2 linked regions of the Homo sapiens genome follow. The protein of the gene in region 1 purifies or fractionates together with the protein of each later gene. This does not show direct contact. Each region holds a gene or a part of one and is shown on either strand. Other genes may lie near its edges.

Region 1 (4,200 bases):
GGCTTGGCTGTTTCCCCCTGCATATTGGGGTTGAAAACTTAAATGTGTAGTTCCAGTCCTTCTATGCAGAGTCTCTCCTGCCCTCCCTCCTTCCTGCAGGCAAATATACAAGCTAGACCCTGTTCCCTCACCCTGTATCCTGTCTCCCCTAATTGACATTCTATCAGCCCAACCCTCATTCTGCAGGGCCACCTGGTGTGTGGAGGTGGCGGGAGGGGTCAGTGACTCTGGGGGTCTCCTCAGTGACCCCCATACCTCATCATGAACCCTTGGGTAGCTTGATTCTGCCTACCATCCAGGAAAACTTGTGCTGGAATTGCTGATGGAAACAATTAAATATTTACTATAAATCAGTGTCTTTTCTTCATCTGCAAGGAACTTTAGCAGGTGCCTGAGGCAGGGCACAGTAGAGCTGGTGGGCTTAGTCCCACATGGCAGATCTACCCTCCTGGAGGGTACTGTGTTCTTGAGCTATTCTCAACAGTCAGTACTGGTTGGGTGCAGTGGCTCACGCCTGTAATCCCAGCATTTTGGAAGTCCGAGGTGGGCAGATCACTTGAGTGAGGTCAGGAGTTCAAGACCAGCCTGGGCAACATGGTGAAACCCTGTCTCTACTAAAAATACAAAAATTAGCTGGGCATGGTGGTGCATGCCTGTAATCCCAGCTACTTAGGAGGCTGAGGCAGGAGAATCCTTTAAACCCTGGAGTCGGAGTTTGCAGTGAGCGGGGATTGCGCCACTGCACTTCAGCCTGGGTGAGAGAGCAAAACTCTGTCTCAAATAAAAATAAAAATAAAAAAGAGCCAGTATTTTCCTCCTTGCTCCTGGGAAGGAGAAGGAACTGGCCCCGTACAACCAGGGATTCAGGACACGTGTTACTAGCTCCAGATGAGGATTTACACGAAAAAATCCTGGGCCTTGTTTGTACAGTTCATGCCAGGGGTAGGAAATACCTGAAGCTTTCAAATACTGCGTTAGAGTTGTGACTCTGTCCTGGGCAAGTCAGGCCTAAAATGGAGAAACTGGTGATGCACTCCTCAAAAAGCCAAGTGTAAAATGAGGTTAATGCCCTCCCTGACTTGTTGCCTTCACTGGCGTGGCATATTATGGTAAAAATAATAATTAAGAAGTAAGGTTATGCAGGCAAATCCTCTAGCGCCGAAATCTTCCCCGCCGCGCTACCAGGTTCTTTCGTGTTATCTTGGACATAACACAACATTAATTCAACTACTCGGTGGAGCGCCCACTAGCTGCTGGACACTCTCTTAGGCCCTGGGCACAGTGAACGAGAAGCATGTGTCTTTGTTTTTACAGTCTCACCACGCCACCACCTCCCTCGGGGGCCTCCGCGCTGAGCTTCCGGCCTCTACGCCTCGCTTCCGGTCGGCCGCCCCTTCCTTACTTCCGGTTCTCTATGGTGCGCGGGCAAGCTTTGCTCCGCCTCCGGCAGTGGCTTACTCCCGGTGCCAGGTTCTTGGAGCTGTGAGGTGAGGAGGGGACAAGGGCAGTGGGGCTGGGAGATGGGGCGGGGCTGGGCGCTCCGGGACTGAGGTGCTGATCGCCCAAAGGGCGCCCCTGGGCTGGGGTCTGACCCGGCTTCTCCTCCCTCACTACCCGCGGTCCCCGGCCTCTCGGCGCTGCGCTGTTACCTCATCCGAAAAGTGTTCGCTGCAGCATCCTCAGGCTTCACGTTGGAGCCTCTTGATTGTGGTAATGTAGCCTGATGGGGGTGGGGGTGGTGGTGATGGTAACAGCTCACATATATCGTGCTCTTCGGTGTGCCAGGCACTCTACTGTGTTGCCAAAGTCAGGATTTCCCACACTTAAGCCTTTCAGGTCCGGTCTTTGTAGGCTTTGCCAGATCAACTTACCACCTCTACTACCGTTTATTAAAAATTTGTTTGTTTGTTTGTTTTAGTATTTATTGATAATTCTTGGGTGTTTCTCGCAGAGGGGATTTGGCAGGGTCATAGGACAATAGTGGAGGGAAGGTCAGCAGATAAACAAGTGAACAAAGGTCTCTGGTTTTCCTAGGCAGAGGACCCTGCAGCCTTCCGCAGTGTTTGTGTCCCTGGGTACTTGAGATTAGGGAGTGGTGATGACTCTTAAGGAGCATGCTGCCTTCAAGCTTCTGTTTAACAAAGCACATCTTGCCCCGCCCTTAATCCATTTAACCCTGAGTGGACACAGCACATGTTTCAGAGAGCACGGGGTTGGGGGTAAGGCTATAGACCAACAGCATCCCAAGGCAGAAGAATTTCTCTCAGTACAGAACAAAATGGAGTCTCCCTTGTCCACCTCTCTCCACACAGACACAGCAACAATCCGATTTCTCTATCTTTTCCCCACATTTCCCCCCTCTCTACTAGACAAAACCGCCATCGTCATCATGGCCCGTTCTCAATGAGCTGTTGGGTACACCTCCCAGACGGGGTGGCGGCCAGGCAGAGGGGCTCCTCACCTCCCAGAAGGGGCGGCCGGGCAGAGGCGCCCCCCACCTCCCGGACGGGGTGGCGGCCAGGCGGAGGCGCCCCCCTACCCCCGACCCGACGGGGCGGCTGGCCGGGCTGGGGCTGGCCCCCACCTCCCCCCCGGACGGGGCGGCTGGCCGGGCGGGGGCTGCCCCCCACCTCCCGGACGGGGCGGCTGCTGGGTGGAGGGGCTCCTCACCTCTCAGACGGGGCAGCCGGGCAGAGACGCTCCTCACCTCCCAGACGGGGTCGCAGCCGGGCAGAGGTGCTCCTCACATCCCAGACGGGGCGGCGGGGCAGAGGTGCTCCCCACATCTGAGATGATGGGCGGCCGGGCAGAGACACTCCTCACTTCCTAGACGGGATGGGGTCCGGGAAGAGGTGCTCCTCACTTCCCAGACTGGGCAGCCGGGCAGAGGGGCTCCTCACATCCCAGATGATGGGCAGCCGGGCAGAGACGCTCCTCACTTCCCAGACGGGGTGGCGGCCGGGCAGAGGCTGCAATCTTGGCACTTTGGGAGGCCAAGGCAGGCGGCTGGGAGGTGGAGGTTGTAGCGAGCCGAGATCACGCCACTGCACTCCAGCCTGGGCACCATTGAGCACTGAGTGAACGAGACTCCGTCTGCAATCCTGGCACCTCGGGAGGCCGAGGCTGGCCGATCACTCGCGGTCAGGAGCTGGAGACCAGCCTGGCCAACACAGCGAAACCCCGTCTCCACCAAAAAATACGAAAACCAGTCAGGCGTGGCGGCGCGCGCCTGCAATTGCAGGCACTCGGCAGGCTGAGGCAGGAGAATCAGGCAGAGAGGTTCCAGTGAGCCGAGATGGCCGCAGTACAGTCCAGCTTCGGCTCGGCATCAGAGGGAGACCGTGGAGAGAGGGGGAGGGGGGAGGGGGAGGGGTTTACTAAAAATTTTTAATCCAGTCCAAATTTTTTTTTTGCAACGGGATCTCTGTTGTCAAGACTGAGTGCAGTGGCGCGATCATAGCTCACTGCAGCCTGGAACTTCTGGGCTCAAGCCATCCTCCCACCCTAGCCTCCAGAGTAGCTTGGGACCACAGGTGTGCACCGCCATACTAGGCTAATTTTAAAATGTTTTCTAAAGATGGGGTCTCGCTCTGTTGCCCACTCTGGTCTTGAACGCCTGGGCTCAAGCGATTCTCTCACCTCTGCTTGCCTTGGTTTCCCAAAGTGTTGGGATTACAGGTGTGAGCCATGGTGTTGGGCCCAGTCACTTTTTTTGTTGTTGTTGAGACTGAATCTCGCTCTGTTGCCCAGGCTGGAGTGAAGTGGCTGCGATCTCGGCTCATTGCAACCTCTGCTCCCTGGGTTCAAGTGATTCTCCTACCTCAGCCTCCTGAGTAGCTGAGATTACAGGCGCCCGCCTCCACTCCCGGCTAATTTTTGTATTTGTGGTACTGACGGGGTTTCACCATGTTGGCCAGGCTGGTCTCAAACTCCTGACCTCAGGTGATCCACCCGCCTCAGCCTCCCAAAGTGCTGGGATTACAGGCCTGAGCCACTGCGCCCAGCCAAGTCACTTTTTAAACTCAAATTTACTTTGAGAGAAAACTTGAAATCTCTCCACCAGAAATGGAAAGCTGCTTTCACTTGTTTTATGTAGAAGGTAAAAATTAATATAGTTAATATAATGCAACTAGATCATTGTTAACAAACTCTGGCTAGATTTTGTTGTTTAAGGCTGTGGGATAGAGTTCTTTTGTTACA
Region 2 (3,500 bases), about 13 Mb from region 1:
TGGTGTGATCTTGGCTCACTGCAGCCTGGACCTCCTGGGCTTAGTTGATCCTCCTGCCTTGGCCTTCTGAGTAGCTGGGACTACAGATGTGCATCATCACTTGCAGCTAATTTTTTTTTGGGGGGGGGGGTAAGGTTATAGATTAACAGCATCCCAAGGCAGAAGAATTTTTCTTAGTACAGAACAAAATGAAGTCTCCCACGTCTACTTCTTTCTACACAGACACAGTAACAATCTGATCTCTCTTTTCCCCACATTTCCCCCTTTTCTATTCGACAAAACCGCCATCGTCTTCATGGCCCGTTCTCAATGAGCTGTTGGGTACACCTCCCAGACGGGGTGGCGGCCGGGCAGAGGGGCTCCTCACTTCCCAGACGGGGTGGTGGCTGGGTGGAGGCGCCCCCCACCTCCCGAACAGGGCGGCTGGCTGTGCGGGGGCTGCCCCCCACCTCCCTCCCAGACGGGGCGGCTGCCGGGCGGAGACGCTCCTCACTTCCCAGACGGGGCGGCTGCTGGGCGGAGGGGCTCCTCACTTCCCAGACGGGGTGGCCGGGCAGAGAAGCTCCTCACCTCCCAGACGGGGTGGCGGTCGGGCAGAGACACTCCTCAGTTCCCAGATGGGGTCGCGGCCGGGCAGAGGCGCTCCTCACATCCCAGACGGGGCAGCGGGGCAGAGGCTCTCCCCACATCTCAGACGATGGACGGCCGGGCCGAGACGCTCCTCACTTCCTAGATGGGATGGCGGCCGGGAAGAGGCGCTCCTCACTTCCCAGACTGGACGGCCGGGCAGAGGGGCTCCTCACATCCCAGACGATGGGCGGCCAGGCAGAGACGCTCCTCACTTCCCAGACGGGGTGGCAGCCGGGCAGAGGCTGCAATCTCGGCACTTTGGGAGGCCAAGGCAGGCGGCTGGGAGGTGGAGGTTGTAGCGAGCCGAGATCACTCCACTGCATTCCAGCCTGGGCAACGAGCACTGATTGAGCGAGACTCCGTCTGCAATCCCGGCACCTCGGGAGGCCGAGGCAGGCAGATCACTTGCGGTCGGGAGCTGGAGACCAGCCCGGCCAACACAGCGAAACCCCGTCTCCACCAAAAAATACAAAAACCAGTCAGGCATGGCGGTGCGCGCCTGCAATCCCAGGCACTCGGCAGGCTGAGGCAGGAGAATCAGGCAGGGAGGCTGCAGTGAGCCGAGATGGCGGCAGTACAGTCCAGCCTCGGCTCGGCATCAGAGGGAAACTGGGGAGAGGGGGAGGGGGAGGGAATTTTTTTTGTATCTTTTGTAGAGACAGGGTTTTGCCATGTTGCCCAGGCTGGTTTCGAACACCTGGGCTCAAGCGATCTGCCCGCCTTGGCCTCCCAAAGTGTTGGGATTACAGGCATGAGCTACTGCTCCTGGTGTTTTTTATTTTTTAGAAGTTTTTTTCTTAACTCTTCCAGCTCTGCTGTTTACTCTTGACCCATGCTTATTTAATTGATGCTTGAACCAGGTACAGTGAAGTTCAAGTCCATTCCTCACCCCTTAGTAGCTCTTGGGATAGTTAATCTCCTTGGTTCTGAGTTTCCTCATTTATAAGATGTGAACAATAACCTGATTCACGGGGTTGTAACATTTAAAGGACGTCTAAAGCTGGGCATGGTGGCTCCATACTTAGAAGGCTGAGGCAGGAGGTCAAGGCTGTAGTGAGCTATGATCACTGCACTCCATCCTGAGCAGCAGAATGAGATTCTGTCCTTTTAAATTTTTTAAAATATGTTTTTGAGACAGGGTCTTGCTCTGTTGTCCAGCCTGGAGGACAGTATCTCGATCCTGGCTCACGGCAACATTGCAGTCTGGGGCTCAGGTGGTCTTCCTGCTTCAGCCTGTGGAGTAGACTCATGCTGCCATGCCCAGATAATTTTCTGCTTTCATTTTTATAGAGATGGAGTCTCACTATATTGCCCAGGCTGGTCCTGAACTCCTGGGCTCAAGCCATCCTCCTGCCTCAGCTTTCCAAAGTGCTGAGATTACATGGTGTGAGCCACCATGCCCAGGGAGTCTCGCTATGTTGCCCGTGCTGTTCTCGATCTCCTGGGCTCAAGCCATCCTGCCATTTGGCCTCCCAAAGTGCTGAGATTACAGGCATGAGCCACTGTGCCCAGCCTTGTTTCTTAAAAAAAAAAAAAAGTCTGTGTGAAAAATTGTCAACCTGTAGTGAGTAATACTCAGAAGTTTTCATTGATCATGTCCTTTATTTTTTTTGAAACAGAGTCTTGCTCTGTCGCCCAGGCTGGAGTGCAGTGGTGTGATCTTGGCTTGCTGTAACCTCCATCTCCTGGGTTCAACTGATTCTCCTGCCTCAGCCTTCCGAGTAGCTAGGATTATAGGCGCGTGCCACCACGTCTGGCTAATTTTTGTATTTTTAGTAGGGACGGGGTTTCACCATGTTGGCCAGGCAGGTCTTGAACACCTCACCTCAAGTAATCCATCAGCCTCGGCCTCCCAAAGTGCTGGGATTACAGGTGTGAGTCACTGTGCCTGGCCTAGCTGCAAGTTTCTGAGGTCACCCCAAAGCATAGTCCCAGTTTGTCTATGGCTTTGTAGGCCATGGAACACGAAGCCTAGGGTAGCCCAGTCCTAGGGAGGGTGGATGCCATCTACCACATACAACCATTTCTTTCTAATCGTGCATGCCGACCCCCTGAACACTCCCTTCCTTTGGCCCTGCTTTCTCTAGTGCCTCCATCTCCCAGAGTCCTCACATTAAAAAAATAGGACAGGAATGGCCAAGTAAACCTTAAGCCTTATCTGATTAATTGTATAAATGACCCTTCTACCCAGAACCCACTGGAAAATCTTTAAATCTGAATTTGCCACTCCAAAGAGAAAAATGATAGCATGCATCACTGCCTGTTTTAGTCCGTTTAGGCTACTATAAGAAAATACCCTAAGCTGGGTAACTTATAAAAAACAGAAACTGCCGGGCGCAGTGGCTCACGCCTGTAATCGTAACGCTTTGGAGGCCAAGGCAGGCGGATCACGAGGTCAGGAGATCGACAGCATCCTGGCTAACACGGTGAAACCCCATCTTTACTAAAAATGCAAAAAATTAGCCGGCCGTGGTGGCGGGCGCCTGTAGTCCCAGCTACTTGGGAGGCTGGCGCAGGAGAATGGCATGAACCCGGGAGGCGGAGCTTGCGGTGAGCCAAGATTGCGCCACTGCACTCCAGCCTGGATGACAGAGCAAGACTCCATCTCAAACAAAACAAAACAAAACTGAAGAAAAGAAACTTCCTTGTCACAGAGAGTCTGGGAAGTCCAGGATCAGGATGCTGGCAGATTCCATGTCTGATGAGGGCCTGCCTGCTTCCTGGTTGTAGATGGTCTTTTTGCTGAGTCCTGACATGGTGGAAGGGGCCAAGGAGCTTTCTGGGGCTTCTTCCTTATAAAGGGCACTAATCCCATTTGTGAAGTCTCTGTCCTCATGACTTAATCACTTCCCAAAGGCCACCACCTTCTA

The links. Proteins that work in one complex are often made in the same cells at the same time.
Region 2: the proteins of THOC5 (region 1) and POLDIP3 purify together in Homo sapiens (affinity purification with mass spectrometry; one large-scale study listed by BioGRID and IntAct). This does not show direct contact.

What each region holds. Positions count from the first base shown.
Region 1 is NC_000022.11:29,550,958-29,555,157, reverse strand, and holds the start of THOC5 (THO complex subunit 5), read left to right. Parts: upstream 1-1,400; 5' UTR 1,401-1,487; intron 1,488-1,502; exon of another isoform or gene 1,503-1,710; intron 1,711-4,200. UniProt on the Homo sapiens protein: Component of the THO subcomplex of the TREX complex which is thought to couple mRNA transcription, processing and nuclear export, and which specifically associates with spliced mRNA and not with unspliced pre-mRNA.
Region 2 is NC_000022.11:42,604,884-42,608,383, reverse strand, and holds part of POLDIP3 (polymerase delta-interacting protein 3), read left to right. Parts: intron 1-3,500. UniProt on the Homo sapiens protein: Is involved in regulation of translation. Is preferentially associated with CBC-bound spliced mRNA-protein complexes during the pioneer round of mRNA translation. Contributes to enhanced translational efficiency of spliced over nonspliced mRNAs.